5 separate regions of the Homo sapiens genome follow, and regions 1, 2, 4 and 5 are each reported to be linked to region 3. Evidence: microRNA targets listed by miRTarBase, many of them from high-throughput screens and not tested one by one. Region 3 holds a microRNA gene; each other region holds the end of a gene's coding sequence.

Region 1 (4,113 bases), not on the chromosome of region 3:
CTTTAAGAGATAAATTATATTGAAACACAAGTTATACTGGTTTTTGGGGGTGCATTATTGCTTTTCGTTGGACAACCACAAAACCCCCTCCTGTTAGACTAGTCTTCAAAAGGTCTCTTTTTCCAGATGTACCTTCCAGGATACTACTCCCTTATCTACAAGCAATCCAAATGACTAAGGGATAATTTCCAAACACTTCTGCTTGTTAACCCCTCCTCTCCAGTGCTGAAAAACTCAAGACAAGTAAAAGACACATTTTTAATTAACATTTGGAAGATGGCTTTTGTTAGTTAATAGCAATTGTTAACTCTCAAAATAAACAGGAAATAGTGCCACTTAGCAAGTTGTATGTTCCAAACCCAAGAGTAATGGGCCTTAAGAAATCCAAGTACTTTTTCACCTTGCAGTCTCAACAATCCTTCCTGATTCTTAGAAAAAGCACAAATCTCCAGCAGCCAAAGTAAGTGCTATTTGGAGAGGGGGCTTTCCTCTGAGCCCACATGCAGCCAGCTTCTCCAGGTCATCCTTATTGCTGCAGTTCTCTTACATTAACACCATGTTGGGCATGGCAAAAAATGAAGATTGTAGCACATCAACCTTTCTGCTTGAGAAAAAAAATGCATAAATGCATACGTTTTGCATTTCATAATCGGTAAAAGCCTCCTCCTGTATAATCTACTGATAATAACAGTTTATTTGTCCTTAACCCACGAAAACCAATTACAGCCACTGCTGGAGGTAAGCATGGGCAAATCAAGGAGAAAGCAGCTCCAGGAGCACCAACTTGAAAAAAAGATCATCTAGCCAGTTTCATCTGTGAAGAATTCTGTCCACGTTGCCCCTCCCCCTCTTTCAGATTCCAAGACAAAGGGCGTTTTTAAATATGGTAAACTCAGAAAATTCCTAGAAAGCATGTGTTGAGTTGACACATATTCAGCTGATGCCATCATTTTCAGGGTCAGAGGAAATCTGGCCAAGAGACATTTAATGTTCCTCGATAAGGTAGCATTTGACAAGACTCCTCTGAGAACTTATTTTTTTAAAGCTAAGGCAGATTGTGTAGTGTCCAGATACTGTAGGGCCTTTCCAATCTTAGGCATTGGGCATAATAACGACAAAAGTCAAGATTTAGGGTTCAGTTCCAGCTGATTTTATTTCCTTCTCAAAAAAAGTTATTTACAGAAGGTATATATCAACAATCTGACAGGCAGTGAACTTGACATGATTAGCTGGCATGATTTTTTCTTTTTTTTCCCCCAAACATTGTTTTTGTGGCCTTGAATTTTAAGACAAATATTCTACACGGCATATTGCACAGGATGGATGGCAAAAAAAAGTTTAAAAACAAAAACCCTTAACGGAACTGCCTTAAAAAGGCAGACGTCCTAGTGCCTGTCATGTTATATTAAACATACATACACACAATCTTTTTGCTTATTATAATACAGACTTAAATGTACAAAGATGTTTTCCACTTTTTTCAATTTTTAAACACAACAGCTATAAACCTGAACACATATGCTATCATCATGCCATAAGACTAAAACAATTATATTTAGCGACAAGTAGAAAGGATTAAATAGTCAAATACAAGAATGAAAAACGCAGTACATAGTGTCGCGAACTCAAATCGGCATTTAGATAGATCCAGTGGTTTAAACGGCACGTTTTTGCTTATAAAAAAAGTGCAAAAAAGATGTGGTTTACAAGTTAAAGCTACAGAATCCCTTTTTGCTGTAATTGCACCAGTTTTAAAGCCTCTGGACAGAGCAGTATTTCGTTTAAAACTTTGTTTTTCTTAAAAGCTTACAGTGTTTGGCTAATTCTCCTCCCCTTTTTACAAGACGGGGGCCGGAGGGTGGACACTGGTGGCAGGTTAAGGGATACTGTCACTTTAAGAAGCCTGCAGATTGAAGTGTAAACATGGAGAAATTAGGGGCTGATTTTTTAAACTGTGTGAGATATTAACCAGCCGCCCTGTTATAAAATCAGGAAATCCAAACAGCGATTTACACCGATTAACACCCCCTTTATATATTTTTTACAAAAATACACTGAGAAAATAATCAAACGTTTTCATCTCTCTTGTCTTTTTTTGTTTTTTAAAAGTGTCAAAAGTCTACATTTAAATATAAAAAATTAAAAGTTAAAACTCTAGCCCTTCAGTGAAGGAGACGTAAAATGGCGTGGGTAACAACAACTACCAAAAAAAAAAAAAAAAAAAGAAAAAAAAAAGAAAAAAAGGAAAAGGAAGGAATAAAGAAATAAAGGAAGTAAAAAGAAAGGAAAGAAAAAAAGGGACAAAAGAAAAAATATGTTTGGCCAGTATAAATACGTCCACATATAAAATGGCATCTGATTACATTTACAAGGAAAAAGAAATACGAGGATGGAGCATCGGTGAAGGAAAAAAACACGTCTTCTCATTTACACCTATAAGGAATAAACACACACACTGAGAAAAAATTTGGTCCTGAATTGTTTTTTTAAAGTCCAGCACAGATTTGAGTTGCGTTTGAATCCTTTAAAGAGTTAAGAATGAAAAAAAGCTGGTGATAATTTCGTTGTAGGAATCAAACATAGCGCCATCTATCTGCTTTTTATATTATCCTACACTATTTTAAAAACTGCTCAACAGTCTTATACAGAAATCTTTAAAAGATAGACAGGATAACATGCTATATTAACCCCACCATTGAAATAATCCAACACCATCACGATTCCGATTAAGAGAAGAAAAAAATCTTTTTTTTTTCTTTTTTTTTCTTTTTTTCTTTTTTTTTTTCCGAAACCACTCGCCCTCCACTGACTGCCCCTGTACCACATCAAACAGTCTCCTCTCCTCCACGCCTCCGGGGTCTGGGAAGTCTCACCTCACTGATTTCACGTAGAAAAGAAGGCGGAGGCCCAGCAGCCGCCGCCGCCAGCTCCCCAACGTGCAAATCCATTTCAGTTTGACCGTGAACCCCCTTCCAGTTCGTGTCCTCCTCCGCCCCCGCCCCTAGCTCCCGCTGCTGCGCTTCCAACGGGGTTCTCGGGTCATTTCCTAGCGCCGGTCACACTGGCTGGCCTCCTCCCCTCAACATCTCCTCCTCCGGCTGCAGAGGGGGCAAGGGGAAAAGAGGGAGGAAAAAAAAGCCCCAAACGGGAATTCGCCTGCGTGGAGTCTCTCAGTCCCGGCGTTCCCCCAAAACATCTGCCATCGGCCAAATTCGTCACCCCGGAGCCTTCTGTCTTCATCACGCGTTTAAAAAAAGGGGGGGAGGGGTGCGCTGGGTTCTCCCCTCCTTTCTTGACCAAGAAGCAAAATAAAACAAAACCAAGGTGGTGATGCAGGAAGGGGGAGACTCCTTCAAGTCTCTAGAAAACTAACTCGCCTTCTTGCTGGGGGTGCAGACAAGTCCGGAAGCTCGTTGGAAGGGGGAGGGGGTCTCTTCAAGCAAAGGGGAGCAAACTCGAAGTCGCTTTTTTTTTTTTGCCATCAACAACAACATCAATAACAACAATCACAGGTCGCCCCTGTCTACCCTCTTCCTCCTCCGCGTCCCTCCGGCTGGGCAGAGTGGGTCCCCGGCCCGGGAAGGTGGGGGATGGGAGCGCGGGTCCAAAACGCCGCCGCGCTCCTTGATCCGACGACGAGAACGCGGGCGAAGCCAGCCCTGCTTACTTTTTCTTTCTTTTTTCCCTTTTCTCTTTAAACTCTTCGTCTGTCCTTTTCGTTTCTTTTTTTCACTTTTTTTTTCTCCTCTCCTACCCCCCCCGGCCCTTCTCCCTGCCTGCGCGCCCTTCAGTAGGTGAAAACCAGGTTGGAGATGCTGGACTCGAGCCAGTCTCCCGAGATCATCTCGCTCACCTCGGGCGTGCAGTAGTCCGGGAACTCGAAGTGCGAGCCGGAGCCGGGCTCGAAGTTAAAATCCAGGTCCCGGTCGAGCGCCGACGACGAACTGAAGCTGCCCAGGGACATGCTCTCAAAGTTTGAGCTGGGGTTCAGGTCGAGCAGGTCGTCTTCGAACTCGTCGTCGGAGGACGAGGAGCCCGAGGAGGAGGAAGAGGAGGAGTGGGACGAGGCCGAGGAGGACGCGTGCGAGGGCGCGCTGGACGGGGCGGGCGAGG
Region 2 (4,113 bases), not on the chromosome of region 3:
CACCCACGCACCCGCGGCCAGCTCTACGGACTTCGGGATGCCCGGAGTGTGCGAGACCCCGAGCGTCCGGGCACCTCGGCAGCCTGCGTGGAGTTCAAGTGCAGCGGGATGCTGTTCGACCAGCGGCAGGTGGACAGGACGCTGGTGACCATTATGCCCCAGGGCAGCTGCCGGCGCGTGGCCGTCAACGGACTCCTTCGGGATTACCTGACCCGGCACCCCCCACCGGTGCCCGCGGAGGACCCAGCTGCCTTCTCCATGCTGGCCCCCCTAGACCCTCTGGGCCACAACTATGGCGTCTACACTGTCACTGACCAGAGCCCACGCTTGGCCAAGGAGATCGCCATTGGCCGCTGCTTTGATGGTTCCTCTGACGGCTTCTCCAGAGAGATGAAGGCTGATGCCGGCACAGCCGTCACCTTCCAGTGCCGGGAGCCACCGGCCGGACGACCCAGCCTCTTCCAGAGGCTGCTGGAGTCCCCGGCGACAGCACTTGGTGACATCCGCAGGGAGATGAGCGAGGCGGCGCAGGCACAGGCCCGGGCCTCAGGTCCCCTCCGCACCCGCCGGGGTAGGGTCCGGCAGTGACCTGGGCAGGGGCCTCGCTTTCCCACCTCCCTCCAGACTCCTTTGACCCCAGGAAGTTTTGCCCCTCCTTCTTCTCCAGACAGCCCCCTCCCCAGGTGTCTGGGTCCCCTTTCCCGCCCCTTTCCAGAACTCAGAGTCAGACAAGAACCCAGAGCATCCGATGGTAGAAACACCAGGAAGACAATTGTTGCTGTGTGGTATGGAATGGAGTTTGCGGTGACTCTGGGGCCAGCACCCAGGGGACGACGTTCAACCCTAGCCTGAAGGGACCCGCTCCCAGCTCAGAAGCCGTCTCTGACTTCTCGTGCGTATTTTGACCCTGATTTCAATCTTCTACCCTTGGGAGTTCTGGCGTTTGGCACAAAGTCCCCTCTGCCTGTTTGGAGCTCAGTGCTAGACCAGGTCCCCTGCCCCGAGCTTTGTTTTTGGGGTTATTTATTGAAACAAAGTGTGGGGAGCTGGTTGTGGGTGTGAGTGGGGGTGTGGGGTCCAGGCTGGGCCCAGTGAAAAGGAGGAAGGGGTTCCCATGCGGGGGAGGCTCTGGGGCTGAGGGGAACAATTCTCACGTGTTTGGTGCTTAGAGACCTGCCCGGGGCGTTGGGCAGGCCCTCCGGGGGCTGAATTAAAAATGCTTTATTTCCAACTCATGGTGTCAGGCTCTAGGGAGGAAGGATGGAGGCTGGGGCTGCCCGGCCCAGATACACCTTTCAGGCAGAAACACGCGGAGGCACACGCGGGTGCCGGGGGCAAGAAGCACGGGCGGCTGTGACCGCTGAACACAGTGGCAGCCTGCTGCTCTGGCCTGGACTCCTTGGCTGTGCCTGGCCGTATGCCCCGGGGCTACAGCAGGCAGGGAGGGGCCCTGGCAGGGGAGCCTCTGGGGCAGGCAACAGCAAGCCAGGCCACCCTGGACCTCCTCAGTCGAGTCCACAGCAGCCCCACCCTGGGCCCCACCCACCTGAACCCCGGCCACACCTCGGTCATGTGGCGACGGGGCTGCCCGAGGCCAGGGCTTTCTGACCTTGCCAGGACCCTGGGTCTGGAGGCGGCAGAATCACGGCTGGCTGGCAGTCTGTGTGCACGTGTGTCCTCCTGGCGCTCCACAGGGCCGGCGCTGTCCTGACCACACCCCCACTGTCCAGACAGAAAAACTGAAGTCCTGGGGTCTGGCATGAATCCCAGCAGGTTTGAGCCCCCTATAGCTCTAGGTGTGTGATTCCCCAGGGTCTGGGGATGAAGGCATCAATGTGGCAAGACTGGAGTGGCCTCCAGGGCACCTGGGATGGGAGACTTGTCCCTGGCTGACACCCCCTAGGGAGTGGGGGTATGGAGCGTCCCTTAGCTTAGGGGGCAACCACCCACTTCCTCTTCAATCTCCCACCCATTCACTGGCTCCCCTCTCCAGACCCCCGATCTCATCATTCACCCATCCAGCATTTAGAGGTGTGAGCTCTGCACTAGCAACTTCAGGGGACCTGAGAGAGCCTATCTCTCTAGGGGGAGACAGGCTCACACGTGCATACCCCAATATGCCCTGGGCCAGTGCTCCACCCAGAGGGTCCCTGGCTCTTGTCCACTGGCCACATCCCCCCTTCGGCTGAGGTCTTGGCAAATCCGAACCTCCGCAGCTCTCACCCTTTCAGTCAGGGAAACACTTCCTTTGCCCTAGGGTGGACTTGGGGGCCTGGAGGCATGGGAGAAGCCCAAGATGCGAGGCGTCACCCCTGGTCTCTGAAGGTGGGCCCTAAGGGCTCTGCTGGAGTTTGGGTTTGGGCAGCCCCAGACATTGGCACCCCAGCCTCACCCTCGATAGGCTGTGACAGGCAAGAGAGGCGAGAGGTCCCTGAGGGAGCTGGCAGGGCTTGGGAGAACACACATTTATCCAGAACTTACTGTCTCTATACCCCCAGCTGATAGGCTCAGAGGCACAGGCCCCTCCCAAGGCAACCTAGGTTCCCGGCCTGCCTGCCACAGAACCCTGCTCAGGGCTGCCTGGTGGGGGTCCTGGGGAGGGGTGGGAATGGGGGCGCTCCCACTTGAAGCGGGCAAAGCTGGCTGCAGCTTTCCAGGCGGAGGGTGATGAGGTGTCAGGCTCCACGGCCAAATACCTTTCATTGAGAAAGTGTTGGGGCCTCCGACGCTGCCAGGCTAGGGCGGCCAGCCAGGCATGGAGCGGGCAGCTGGCCCAGCCCTGTCCCCTTCCCTAGGGTGGGGCAGGGGTGGACGGGCATCCTCCAGAAGCCCCCTCCCCAGTCACCACGCCTGGGCCAGGAAGGGCATCTCAGGAGGAGGACATGGCTGAAGCAAAAGCTGGGCAGGGCACGGGGCTAGAGTCCAGCTCCTCCCCATCCCTGCTGATAACTCTGCAAGAGGGCAGCGTTTGGCCACAATTTCCAGATGAGGAAACTGAGGCTCCAAGAGAAGGACGCCATCAACCTGAGTCAACAGCCTTGTGCCTCTTGACACTGCCTGTCTCCCCCAACTGCAGCCCTCAAGCCAGGAATCCCACCCCCTCCCTCCTGGAACCTGGGCTACCGTCCGCCTCCTGGTAAATCCATTGTCTACCCCCCAACCAAATTGGGGCTGCCAGACCACACCCCCTCAGTCTGGGAGGAGTGAGGGGCAGGGGACCCCCTCGAAGAGACCCCCAGCTGCAGCCACCCTGGGTCAGCTCAGGGCACAAACAGGCCCTTGGTCCCGCCCACGGCATTTTAGACTTTTATAATTTTAGAACCAGGGGTTCTTAAAATTCCTAGCACCATGATGGGGAAAAAATCTTGGAACAGTAAAATGTTTAAAACAAGAGTCTTCAAACCACAGAATCCAAGAGGAGGGAGATAAAAATGAACACACATTGAGCGTTGACTGACTGTAAGCCCTCCGAGCCAGCCCCCGCAAAGCCTAACTCACTTTAAGGGCATTTAGTATAAATCTGTTGCCTTGGGATCCCCAAAATATGCTTTTAGGGAGGATGATTTTTACCCCCATTCCACAGCTGGAGGAATCTTCTCAGGGTCACACAGCAAATGGGGTACTGTGGGCTGGGGAAGGGCAATGTTTCCTGGAGAAGGGGACATAAGCACTGGGTCTTGAAGGATGTGTAGGAGTTTGCTGGGTGGCCAAGGCAGGAAGGGCATACCAGGGAGCTGGAAAGGTGAACGTGAAAGCTGGAGGAGGGAGACCCACGGAGGGCGGCAGTAGAAGGGAGACACAAAGTGGAGGTGAGCAGGGGCTCGAATGCTGAGTGAGGAGCCTGAGTTCTCTGGTGAGCAATAGGGAGCTATGGGTTGTGCTGAAGCAGGAGAAGGTTACACAATATCTCGTGACAAAGACTCCCCTGGAGCTGGTGCAGGACTCAGCTTCTTACAACATGCTTCTTTCACGGAACTGGGGTCTGCTCCCTCCTACTTGGGGGCCCTTCCAGGGTCCAAACCCTGCAGCCCAGCGCCCTCTCCCCGCCAGCTGCCTCCTGTCCTGGCTGAACATCCCTGGCTCCTCCATTGGGGCCTCGTGGACCTGGCGTGG
Region 3 (4,113 bases):
CAACTACAAGTTCGCTCTTACGAGACGGGGGTAGCGTGCTGGGAGGAGGGAGGGAGGTGAGAGGTTGGTATCTCAGGGCCACAGGAAGAGAAGGGCCCGCTGTGAAGGATGTGGAATGGATGAGGGCTCCTTGCTCCAGGGCCAGCCCAGGGCAGGGAAGCAGGTCATGAGACCATGTGGCTGATGGAAGCTGGGCAGTGGGTAGTGGAGCAGGCAGCACCCTGACCCAGGGCCCCACTCCTGCTGTCAAGGGGCAGGCGGGCGCTGGGCAGGCAGCAGGCTGGGTGGCAAAACGGGCGGGGGCGGAGGGGCCGGTGTTGGGCTTACATCTCCTGCTTCCCTGAGCGCCTGCACGGCAGCTTGCCCTTCTTATAGAGGAAATAGAGGACAGCGCCCAGCACCGCCAGGACCAGGATGCACACAATCACAGCCACGATGACCACGCCCCGGCTCTCCGGCTCCGGCAGCTTTCTCTCTGCGCCACAAAGACACTCCTCGTCACTCCCTGCCCCAGGCCACTTCGTCACCATCGTTGGCCCAGCCAGTCCAGGGCCGACAAGATGGGGCTGCTACTCACCTTTCTGGACAGGGCTCTCTGGGGAGGGACAGGGCAGAAAGGATGCCCTGGCACAGCCCTGTTCTCTTGCCAGGCCTGGCTTACCTGTGGAGGTGCTGTTGGCTCTGGTATGAGGACTGGCAGTGGAAGTGCTGAGGCCAGTGGTTGTGTTGGAGTCTGGTGTGAGGGTGGTTAAATTGACTAGGAGGCAGAGGGAGGGGTGTTAGGAGAAGCGCAAGTTACTGCCCGTGCCTGGGCCTGCCCCTGCCATCCCCTGCAGGGATGCAGCCCTCACCCAGCTCCAGGAAGAGGATGCTGGTGTTTTTGCCCAGGTCGTTGGAGGCCGTGCATTCAACACCTGTCTCCAACAGCTCCGGGGTCACGAGGACATTCAGGGTGCTCAGGACTCGCTGTGGATCTTGGTCTTGTTCACTTGCCTGCGAGGAAAGGAAGGAGGCAGCTCAGGGGATGGGGAGGATCTCTGGTCCTGGCCACAAAGCGCAGGCAGGGATTAGGAGAGTGTGGCAGATGAGACACCCGCTCACCGTGCCGTTGACGTTCCAGGAGATGGTGGGCCGGGGGTGCCCTGACGCTTCACAAGACAGATTCAACACCATATTCTCTTTCACCCACACCTTCCTCTCCTTGAATGCCATCCAAGGGGGGCCTTGGGGAGGTAGGGAGAGGTGAGGTGGCAAGCCCAGCTAGCCTGCCTCCCCCTCCGCACCAGAGCTCCCCAGGGCAGCAGGTGGCTTTTTGTCAAAGAGCTTAAAAACCACCCCACTTGGGGTGACCTGGTCTCTACCCAGAGGGAGGGCCTCACCAAAAATGGCCACGTTGACCAGCTGTGTGCGGTTCAGGCCGGGTATGCTGGGCACAGACGCCACGCAGCGATAGCCGCCTCCTGCCTCCCGTTTCAGGTCATGCAACTGAAGCACAGGCCCCCTTTCCAGCACCTGGCCTGTCTGGGATGAGAGATGGGTCAGAGGGTCTGGGAAAGAGCACATTCTTGTCACCGCCAGCCCCACCCACCCCATCAGCCCCTTGCCCCAGACCCGCCTGGGTACCTCTTCTCTCAGCCACTGGAACTCGAGGTCCTGGCTACTCTCTGCCTCACAGGTCAGGGTGAGGCTGCTGCCTTCCTGTCTCTCAGGGGCTGCGGGACTCACTCGGACGTCAGACACATCTGGGGGTACAGCAATCATGTCACCCAGGGCAGGGTGGGGCCAGTTCCCTATTGCCCCAGCCTGGTCCCCCTGTCCTGGGTCCCCAGCCCCTCACAGTTCACCAGTAGTTCCTGTGGTTCACTCAGCAGCGATATCATGGTGTCCAAGTCCAGGCCCTGACATTCATAGCGCCCACTGTGTTCCTTCCGGGCAGGCTCCAGCACCAGGACCCCGTTGTCGTTGGTTGTCTCTTCCTCTGCCTCCCTGGTGCTGGGGTTCTAGGGAGGATTGGGGAGGTGAGCAGAGTGCACCTCCCGCCACTCCACCTGGGTCTCTGCTTGCATCCCCACCTGCACCCAGCACAAAGCCCCCACACCTGCTTGCTGATGCTGAAGTGTGGTGGAGGGTTGCCATCAGCCAAACACCTGATTTCCACGCGGTCCCCTTCCTTCAGCATTCCCACGGGCTCCACTTCCAGCCACACTTTTTCTGTCGGGTCTGCATAGGCAAAGGGGGTAGCTCTTGGCCCATGAGTCAACCCTGGGCTGGATAAGGGGGAGCCAGCAGGAGTTTCCAGCAGCCCCAGCCCCAGTAAGCAGAGAGTCAGGTTAGTACTCACAGAAAACAGGGACGGTGACTTCCCTGGACTCCTTCATGTGGTTCCCACTGGGCAGCCGGTAGTTGAGCTCACAGTAAAACTGGGCATCTTTGTCTTCTTTAACCAGCTGTGCCTTCAGAATACTCTGCAAGGTGTACAAACCACTCGACTCCACAGTCTGGGACGACTGAATGTGGACCCCTGGGCAGGGAGGAAGGGGAGGAAGACTCAGCCTCAGCCCCACCTCCAGCCCCACCCTAGGGTTGTCCACTGGGGTTGGCAGGGGACCATCTAAATAGCCCCCTGTCCCCTGTAGAAGGCCAGGTACAAATGCAAGCTGGAAACCCTTCAACCCAGCACTTTTACTGCTCAGTGTCAACCCTAGAAAAACATTTTCATGTCTGCTCATATCCAAGGATGTGTGCAAAGAATGCTGCAATGATAAAAACGAGCAGCCGTCTAGATGTCCACTAAATGGGGAATGGTGAACTCGACTACCTGCTATGCGTAGTATGGAAAACTTGGCAGTAAGCAAAACGATCAGTTGATCTAAATAGACTGACCCAGAAACATTGTATAAAAGAAATTGTCTAACAATGTATACCATACACCACCACTTAGACCAGGGTTTCTCAGCACTACTGATAATTTTTTTTTTTTTTTTTTCAGACAGAGTTTCACTCTTGTTGCCCAGGCTGGAGTGCAGTGGTACAATCTCGGCTCACCGCAACCTCCACCTCCCTCCCGGCTTCAAGTGATTCTCCTGCCTCAGCCTCCTGAGTAGCTGGGATTACAGACATGCGCCACCACGCCCGGCTACTTTTGTATTTTCAGTAGAGATGGGGTTTCTCCGTGTTGGACAGGCTGGTCTTGAACTCCCGACCTCAGGTGATCCGCCCACCTTGGCCTCCAAAAGTGCTGGGATTACAGGCGTGAGCCCAGCCAGCACTACTGATGTTTTAGGCCACGTTGATTCTTTATTGTGGGGGCTGTCCTGTGCCCTATAGGATGTTAGCAACATCCTTGGTCTCTCTACCTACTAGATGGCAGTAGCACCCCCTCTATGTGTGACAACCAAAAATATCTCCAGACATTGCCAAGTATCTCCTAGGAGGAGGGGGTACAAAATCACCCCTGGTTAAGAATGACTGATTTAGATAATAAAACACAGAAGCCTATATCATTCTAGAAATATTTCTATATATGAGCAAATACATAGAAATAGGCTTGAAAGAACACACCCTGATAGCAGAGATTATTTCTGGGAGGGGGGGTCTCAGGCAAGAAGAAACTTCTAGATTTTTTGTCAGTTTAAATTCTCATGAAAATATTTTCAAGTACCATTTGTATAATTTTTTTAAGTTAAAAGCTTAATGAAAATATAAGGCAGTTCCTGTGTAGTACCATAGGGACAGCTCTTTTTAAGAGATGGGGTCTCGCTCTGTCACCCAGGCCGGAGTGTGGTGGTGCAATCCTAGCTCACTGCAGCCTTCATTTCCTGGGCTCATATGATCCTCCTGCCTCAGCCTCCCAAGTATCTGGGACCACAGGCACACACCACCATGCCTGGCTAATTTTTTTATTTTCTGTAGAGACAGGGTCACCCTATGTTGTCCAAGGTGGTCCTGAACTCCTCACCTCCAGAGATCCTCCTGCCTTGGCCTCCCAAAGCACCGAGATTACAGGTGTGAGCTACCACACCTGGCCCAAGGGTGGCTTTTGGGAGAAAGGGCTACTCACGGTTCTTCTCCTCCTTCAGAGGCCGGCCATTCTTGTACCAGATGACTTGAGGA
Region 4 (4,113 bases), not on the chromosome of region 3:
TTCGGTATATGAATTTTTTTTTTTTTTTTTGAGAAACGGTTTCATTCCCATTGTCCAGGCTAGAATGCAGTGGCACGATCTTAGCTCACCACAACCTGCGCCTCCCTGGCTCAAGCAATCTTCCCGGCTTAGCCTCCCAAGCAGCTGGGACTATAGGCACACACCACCATGCCTGGCTAATTTTTGTATGTTTTGTAGAGACGGGTTTCGCCATGTTGACCAGGCTGGTCTTGAACTCCTGGGCTCAAGTGATCTGCCCACATCACTCTCCCAAAGTGTTGGGATTACAGGCGTGAGCCACCATGCCTGGCCTGAATCTTAAATATACATATTCATCTAGCAAATAATATATGTTAAAAAACAGGGTATGGTTGACTAAGGACGTTGGCCCAGATATACAAAAAAATTCAAAACTACCATTTAGGCATTAATTAAGGAAGATTCATGTTGCCTATACAAATTTACTAAGAAATCTTAGTACTGAGATTTGAATTAACAGATCTGTAGTTTGCTACATAAATTCATTTTCTACCTTTTTTATAGATTCAAAAGAGCAAGTGGAATCTCTAAGAATGGCTTCCAGCCACTGGAATGAAACCACTACCTCTGTTTATCAGTACCTTGGTTTTCAAGTTCAAAAAATTTACCCTTTCCATGACAACTGGAACACTGCCTGCTTTGTCATCCTGCTTTTATTTATATTTACAGTGGTATCTTTAGTGGTGCTGGCTTTCCTTTATGAAGTGCTTGACTGCTGCTGCTGTGTAAAAAACAAAACCGTGAAAGACTTGAAAAGTGAACCCAACCCTCTTAGAAGTATGATGGACAACATCAGAAAACGTGAAACTGAAGTGGTCTAACACTCTATAGAAGATGAACAAAATCTCTGAAAGCAGCTCAACCTCTTCTGAGAAAAAAAATATATTCTGAGGCCAACTGTTGCTACAAAACAAATTCTGACTGAATGGTTAAAACATTTCTAGTAGAAGGGGAAAAAAAAGTTAAACATGCACTGTTTGTGTGTATAGCCATTTCATTAAATATACAGTAAAACTTCATGAATGTGAATTTACTAATCTGTTTAATACTGACACTTCAAAAACTGGATAAAAGATTCCTAGAGTTCAATATTAAGCAGCAAAAGATAAGCTGGAAAAGACAAGCAAGGCTAATGATGCTAAAATGATTTTATAACTAACCAATTCATGTAGACAAAAAATAGTGTGTTGGTAACAAAAAGGCTATTTAAAACATGTTTCTAAGTCTGAAGTAAAATACTTCCACTTATATATATAAAGTTCCTATTTATTAAAAAGTAGTATTTTCTAATTTACTGAAAACAACTTATATAAATATATAATGACTTGAGTTTTATGTAGGATTAGTATGAAAAAGTCTCAAAATAATCAAAAATGCCACAAGTATATTTGCACAAAATTCTCACAAAACTGACTTACTGTTTAGTTAGAAATGCATGATATAGGAAAGGCCTAGTCTATTTTCAAACTAAAACTTACTACTACACCCCTTCATTTCCTGAGTTTGTTCTTTCATTTTACCTCTCTTATTTATACTCTCAAAGGCTAAGATAACCAAGGCAGAAAGACTGCCCCTCCCCCCATCCCCCCAAAAAAGGTCAAAAGATAGGGCCACTCAACACCTGTTGAAATATGGCAGTTTTATTTCTTGGAATTCCAAGGGCTATATAGATATTTTGTGACCCTAACACTATTTTGCTATCACCCATGAGCAAACAAAAGCATGCTCTTAACCACCACACTACCCCTAAGTCAGAAATGCCACTCCTGGAAATGTATCCTAAGCACTTAGTTCAAATGTACAAGCTCAAGGTACAAAGATTTTTTACAATGGCATTACTCAAAATAACAAAAAATTGAAAATAACTAAGACTTTAACTAAATGTGGCACATCAACTTAATGAATTATTAAAAAGCAACTGAAGGCCAGGCACAGTGGCTCATGCCTGTCATCCCAGCACTTTGGGAGGCCAAGGCGGATGGATCACAAGGTCAGGAGCTCAAGACGAGCCTGGCCAAGATGGTGAAACCCCGTCTATACTAAAAATACAAAAGTTAGCCGGGCATGGTGGTGGGCACCTATAATCCCAGCTACTCGGGAGGCTGAGGCAGGAGAACTGCTTGAACCCAGGAGGCAGAGGTTGCAGTGAGCCGAGATGATGCCAATGCACTCTAGCCTGGGTGACAGAGCAAGACTCCGTCTCAAAAAAAAAAAAAAAAAAAAAAAAAAGCAACCGAAAAGTCTGGCAAGATAGACAAGTATTTAAAAGTAAAAAATAAATTCACCATATAAAAGTTTTAATACAATTATTGATATTATAAATATACACATGAGTAAGGTTTGAAAACAAATATGGAGAATTAGAATAGCTGGTATATTAAGAGGGCTGTGGGGACAAAAAAAAGCACTAGGTATTATAAAAGACTTTTTTTAAATCTCTATTACTGATGGAATTTTTTGTGTGCAATAAATAACTGTGTGGTGAAGAGAGGAAATCTGTTCTTTTCAATTTAAAGAATATCGGCTGGGCGCGGTGGCTCACGCCTGCAATCCTAGCAGTTTGCAAGGCCGAGGCAGGTGGATCACCTGAGGTCAGGAGTTCGAGACCAGCCTGGTTGACATGGTGAAACCCCATCTCTACTAAAAATACAAAAAAATTAGCCAGACATGGGAATGGGGCCCCTGTAATCCCAGCTACTTGGGAGGCTGAGGCAGAATCACTTGAACCTGGGAGGCAGAGGTTGCAGTGAGCTGAGATCATGCCATCGCACTCCAGCCTGAACAACAAGAGTGAAACTCCGTCTCAAACAAACAAAAGAATCTTAACTGCCGGTCTGAAATAACTCTTCCACAAAGTATTTTTTATATTTATTCTCACATTAGAAACAAACACAAATAATATAACCAACTTTAAAAGGATTTGTGAAGCTTGGATATATAAAATACTTTGGAAACCAGGAACTGAGCACTGTTAAAACCATATACATTTTCACAAACGTTGGATTCTTGGCAATAGATGGTAAGTATACAAGTCCTTTAATAATCAGATTTTTTAATAGTGTACATTACCAACTTTCTCCCCCACCCTATCCTGTAATTATTTAGTCATCCAACAAATATTTACTGAGTGCTTACTACATGTCAGCAATTAGGCCAGATACTGAGGGCAGAGTGGCAAACAAGGAACCACGTCACTACAATGGAGCACATTGGAAGCTCTGTCAAAAAGAGTAGTGATATGGGAACTCAAAGGTTATACAGTGAATTCACACTGAAGAATGAGAATAATATGACTTTTAAGCTGAAACTTAAAAGAACAGGACAGAACCAAAAGAGGGTAGGAGGTAAGAAAGAATATTCCAGGAAGAAGAAATAATACGAATAAAAGCCAAGAGGCAAGAGAGAATAAAGCATGTTGGAGGAGCTACAAGTCAGTATCACTAGGACAGAGTACAAGGAGAACAGTATGATACCACACCTAAGAGATAATTAGAGGCCAGATGAGGCAGGCACGCAGGCTGCAGTAAAACATGGACTTTATCTGAAAAACAGTAACAATCAGCTTGAGCTGAAAGCAACATGATCTAATGAGAAAAATCACAGCTGTATGAAGAATGAACACTAAAGCAGCTAAACCAGGAGACCTGGTCAACAGCTAACCTAGCAATCCAATGACCGTGGCCTGAACTAGAGTGGCATGGTAGCCTTTAGTTGTTACACCCAATATTTCCAGCTCTCTTCATTAAGGAAAGCATTCACTTCAGAGCCCCCTATGGCTGGGAACATAACTTTGGCCAATGAGTGACTTGTGACTAACTCTGGCCAATGAGCTGTGAGAGGATGTGACATGTGTCACCTTCAGGCCACAGCACTTAACTGCTAGTGCAAGCTCTTCCAGAGTTAGTTTTCCTGCTAGCACAGAACTCACAAACATTTGAGCTTCCAGCTGCTCTGCCAGCCTGGGTCCTTGAGTGACTATAACTAGCTAAGACTTCTACCAATCCATGATAAACATGTAGTATGAAGGAGAAACAAGCTTCTGTTGTTTTAAGAAACTGAGATTTTTGGGATTGT
Region 5 (4,113 bases), not on the chromosome of region 3:
TCCCAGGGTCTCGCATTCAAGGGCAATTACATTTTAAAAAGAAAAACAGAAAAAGGTTAATCACAAAACCAACCCTCACTTCACAGGGTCTGTAAGTCACTCATAGAACTTTGCTCTTCCCGAGACAGGGTCCCTTCCCCAGCTCAGGCACAACAGAGTCTGGCAGGCTCTGGCACCCTGGGCCTCCTCCGGGAGCCTCCCATCTGGGCAGTGGAGCCATAAACGGGGATCCGAGAAGAGAGTATCCACTTTTTTTTTTACAGGAAGAAGGGACTCACAGCATAAACGGGGGTGGGGGGGATCCTGATTTTGAAAATAATCTATTTGTAGCTTCTCTTCTATCAAAACCAACACATCCTCTTCTTTCTGCCAATCCTCTCCCCCACGGGACACCTCTCTGGTTCGGGACCAATCCCTCCCTGGGGACGTGCCCCACCTGCGTGCCGGCTGAGCTCAGGAACCCCTGCCTGCCCCCCGGGTGGGGCTGCGGCTCTGGCCTCCCAGGCCCATCCTCAACAGCTACCCCAGCCAACACCAAGGCCACAAGGGGACCCCGGCCTAGGAGGCAGGAAGCCAAGGTGCAGAGAGCAGCCTGGCCCTCACCAGTGCGCAAGCTGGGGCAGCAAGGCTGACAGTTGCTGCATGCCCAGGGCAGGGTGTGGTACTGGCACCCAAGTTCAGCATGGCAGAGCTGGCCAACAGCTTGTGGTCCCCGATCTGCCTCCAGCCCCAAGATGCCTACAGCCCCCAGGCCCCTTCGGCAGCACTGCCTCTGCCCACCTGCCTTTAAGAGACTCCAGGGCTGCTCCTGTCATGCAGCGAAGGTTTTGTCTGTTTCAAAGTTCGAGACTCAACTTGAGGGACTGTTTTTGACAATCCCCGCTGACCTCCGCTCCTCGTGGCGCCCTGGCCCTACACCCAGCCTGGCCCAGGGCCGGCTTTGCCTGGTGAGGCTGGAGGGAGCACCAGGACCTGCTGTCTGCTGTCAGCCCCTCCTGGTGCTGGTGCCCTGATGCTGTGCCTTGTCACCCATTGAGCTGCAAGAGGGACCAAGAGGGGGCCACGCAGCCAGCCAGATGCCTGGCCCTGTGCTGGGGCAGACAACGCTGCAGAGCCCAGGGAGCCTGGCGCTAGGACGTGCGTCCTTGTGACACTGGCCTGTCTGAACTCACCTGGCCTGGGAAGCACCGTCTGCCCGGGCCCAAGCCCTGCCCCTCCAGAGTCCAGAGCCAGGAAGGGGCTGCTGAGGGCGAGCATCCTGCTGGGCTCTCTGCCCGGCCCACCCCTCCAAGGGGCTGGCCTGTGAGCCTTGACTGGGATTCATGATGTGGAGGCCCCCAACTTCCAGAAGCAGCTGGTACTCTGCTCACACAAGCGACTGGGCCGGCCGGCCCTGGACCCCTAGACCCCGAGCCGCCTGCCGACTGCCTGCACAGGGAGAGCAGTTGAGGCCCGGGCAGGGCCCCCACACCAGACCCCAACATAGCTTCCCCACCCAGGCACCCCCTCCCGGGGCAGCAGGCGTGGGAGTCAGGGCTGCATGCTCCTCCCCTCCCACCTCACAGGCGGCCTTAGGCAAGTCATTTTCTGTCATCACAAGGTCGCCTCTGCCTAGTCAGGTCCTGGGGTCCAGAGTAAGGATGTGCGGCCCCCAGGCCCCCGCACACCTCCCTCAGCACCAAGACCGGGACCCCCCCACCCACGTGTCTCATTGTGGCTGCCTATGGACTCCCGGGCCTTGTGTGCAGGCCAGGCCCTTCCACTGATTTTTTAAAGTGAACCATTGCTGGATCTCAGATTCTGTGGCATCTAAGGCCTAGCAGGGGTGGGCACACGGGTCACCCGAGGCCCATACCAAGACTCTGTTCCTGCCCTAGGCCCAGTCTCAAAGGAAGCCACAAGGCGCGGGGGCCACTGAGGAAGGAAATGTTCATTTTCATTTGTCCAAAACCACCTTAAGTTTTAAGTATATTAATCTTGATGCTTTTTAACTATTGCTTTTTAACTTGCTGAGATTTAGAAATACTGTTATAAAAACTTTTTTAATTTCTGTATTTTTTTCTGTATTGTATCTTCATGGGACATTAGGGGTTTTCTATGGTAAGCACACCTATGGTTTTGGTAAAAACATTATCAAATATATATCCAGACGGTTCTTCCCTAGAAGAAAAACAAGTCTTTACACCTGATAAAATATTTTGCGAAGAGAGGTGTTCTTTTTCCTTACTGGTGCTGAAAGGAAGGATGGATAACGAGGAGAAAATAAAACTGTGAGGCTCAAGGCTGGTGTTCTCCACTTATTTCAGCGACAAGCTGGGGCCAGGCCTCAGGGGCACGCCTGGGGGCAGGGGAGGGAGTTCCTGCCCCCAACTGCAGGACAGGCACTGCCCAAGTCTGCCCTGAATCCGAGGACACCGGAACTCTGCTCATACAGGCGGCTCGGCTGGCCTGGCACAAGCCTCACCTTCTAAGCTGCGAGCCAGAGGCCACTGGGTTCTCTCACGTGGTGTCTGCTGTTACCTCTGAGAGCTGGGACATAACCAAAGGGGGGTTAGTGTGTGAGAGAAGCAAGGCCACGGCACCTACTGACCTTCCTGGTGAAGCGGCGCTGGGCAGGGGCTGCTCCCTGCCATACCCCACCTGCAGGAGGGGCTTTCCAATCTGAGGGAGGTGCAGGGAACAGGGCTGCCTCCCAGCTCCCCTGACAGCCACTTTCCTGGGCCTGCATCTCAGGAACTGCTCTGGGACAGCTGCCTTGTGTCCAGTCTCAGGTCCTGGCAGGCCACCAGCTGGTGCAGCACTGAGGCCAGACACCTATGGATGTGGCTTGAAGTTACCTGTCAGGTGAAAGGGCCAGAACCCAGGCCTCTCAGCCCGGGCCCAGCCAGGGTCTTCAAGCCCCAGAGACCCAGCCACAACTCAGCATCTCCACCCTCCTAGCAGAAGCCAGAAGAGCAGGGACCCGGAGATCCTCGAGAGTGAGACAGACAGGACAGGCTCCCGCCACGGGGACTGCTCGCCAAGGGCGGCGTGGACAACCCCACCGGCCAGCCCCACAAGCTCCCTGTGCTTCCACTCCCTTCCCAGCTGGGGAGAGATGTCTCTGTGTTGGAGCATTCTCAGCACCTCAGAAGCACAAGCAGGGGGGTCTTCCCAGCCCCTCCAGGGCTCCAAATTCAGTCACCCTCTCATGCTTCCTGCCACAGCTGGAGCCAGAGGCCAGCAGTGCAAAGATGCAACAAGATGCAACACGGCGCAGTCTTTCCCATCCCTGAGGCCGAGCAGCTCCCAGAGAGGAGAGGAGGGCCTTCAGCCTTCCCCGCTAGAAAGCCATGAGCCACTCAGAACCCCAGCCCTCAGGCCACTTTATTGCTCAAGAGTGGTCAGTCTGGGGTATCTGCATGCCTGAACTCCATGATGATGTCGCCTGTGTCGGGGTGAAACTCCACTGCATAGCTGACAGTCCGTGGGCCACCCAGCAGTGCTCTGGGATCTGGGGCAGGGCTGAAGAAGTAGACGGCCTGCTTGCAGTGGGGGTTCCAGCAGCAGCCCCCCTGTAGGAAGAAGAGCAGGAAGATGGTGAGGGCTCCCTGGCACCTGAGCCTCCTTCCTAGCCAGCCTCCAGCCCAGGCAGCTCGCAGCAGAGAGAAGCTGCTCAGGGGCCAGATGGCCCAGGACCACTGAGGGGTCATCATCTGGCCCGAAGAACTTGTGACAGAAACACCCAGAGCATGGGGGCAGGGAGGCCTCCCCAGGCGGCGCCTGCTCTCAGGGTCTGCACGCACACTGGGCCCGGTGCGCAGGCACTACCTCGGGGTCTGCAGGCTCCAGGAGGCCAGTGCTGAGCGTGCACTCCGGGGTCAGGTGGTACTCCATCCATAGCACCGCTGCGTGGCTCTGCCCGGGCCTGTCAAGGAGAGGGGGGCCCAGCAGAAGTAGTCACACAAGAGGCAGCGGGGGAACAGCTGCAGCTCCTGCGGCTTTCCAGAAACCTGTGGTCTTCCCCACTTCCTTCCTGCCCTGCCGGGAGTTCCTAGTGCTGCAGTTACATAAACGTTCCTCAGAAAAACCCCAGCCAGAAGAGCCGCAGCCAAGCCCCCACCTGAGCCAACC

The links. Region 3 holds the annotated microRNA hsa-miR-6756-3p (UCCCCUUCCUCCCUGCCCAG, at 2,522-2,541, opposite strand). A microRNA usually pairs through its seed, bases 2 to 8, with sites in the 3' UTR of a target mRNA and lowers its output. Matches are read on the target gene's strand: a 7mer-m8 pairs with bases 2 to 8, a 7mer-A1 pairs with bases 2 to 7 and ends in A, and an 8mer does both.
Region 1: miRTarBase lists SOX4 as a target of hsa-miR-6756-3p. Seed matches in the 3' UTR shown: 7mer-m8 at 2,967-2,973 and 7mer-A1 at 1,830-1,836.
Region 2: miRTarBase lists CILP2 as a target of hsa-miR-6756-3p. Seed matches in the 3' UTR shown: 7mer-m8 at 1,103-1,109.
Region 4: the mRNA of SMIM18 is a reported target of hsa-miR-6756-3p. Seed matches in the 3' UTR shown: 8mer at 986-993.
Region 5: the mRNA of PRMT7 is a reported target of hsa-miR-6756-3p. The part of its 3' UTR that is shown has no 7-base or 8-base seed match.

Annotation. Positions count from the first base shown.
Region 1 is chr6:21,595,634-21,599,746 of GRCh38, reverse strand. It overlaps SOX4 (SRY-box transcription factor 4), which reads right to left. Exons shown (of 1, transcript NM_003107.3): 1 at 1,128-4,113. The coding sequence ends at 3,788. Among named protein-coding and RNA genes, the nearest start is that of SOX4, 3.9 kb to the right of the region's middle. RefSeq lists an enhancer at 3,236-3,435.
Region 2 is chr19:19,545,429-19,549,541 of GRCh38, forward strand. CILP2 (cartilage intermediate layer protein 2) reads left to right here. Exons shown (of 8, transcript NM_153221.2): 8 at 1-1,231. The coding sequence ends at 588. Among named protein-coding and RNA genes, the nearest start is that of CILP2, 9.2 kb to the left of the region's middle. RefSeq lists an enhancer at 1-637.
Region 3 is chr11:119,310,429-119,314,541 of GRCh38, forward strand. It overlaps MIR6756 (microRNA 6756), which reads right to left and starts at 2,584; the gene lies at 2,522-2,584. MCAM (melanoma cell adhesion molecule) reads right to left here. Exons shown (of 16, transcript NM_006500.3): 5 at 4,061-4,113; 6 at 2,342-2,521; 7 at 2,099-2,220; 8 at 1,838-2,000; 9 at 1,624-1,742; 10 at 1,380-1,521; 11 at 1,102-1,223; 12 at 852-993; 13 at 662-757; 14 at 328-475; 15 at 1-38.
Region 4 is chr8:30,644,738-30,648,850 of GRCh38, forward strand. SMIM18 (small integral membrane protein 18) reads left to right here. Exons shown (of 3, transcript NM_001206847.2): 3 at 544-1,327. The coding sequence starts at 573. The coding sequence ends at 860. All of the region lies in intron 2 of GTF2E2 (general transcription factor IIE subunit 2), which reads right to left. Among named protein-coding and RNA genes, the nearest start is that of SMIM18, 8.2 kb to the left of the region's middle.
Region 5 is chr16:68,356,495-68,360,607 of GRCh38, reverse strand. PRMT7 (protein arginine methyltransferase 7) reads right to left here. Exons shown (of 19, transcript NM_019023.5): 18 at 3,811-3,907; 19 at 2,024-3,554. The coding sequence ends at 3,384. SMPD3 (sphingomyelin phosphodiesterase 3) reads left to right here. Exons shown (of 9, transcript NM_018667.4): 9 at 1-2,281. Among named protein-coding and RNA genes, the nearest start is that of PRMT7, 48 kb to the right of the region's middle. RefSeq lists an enhancer at 3,857-4,016.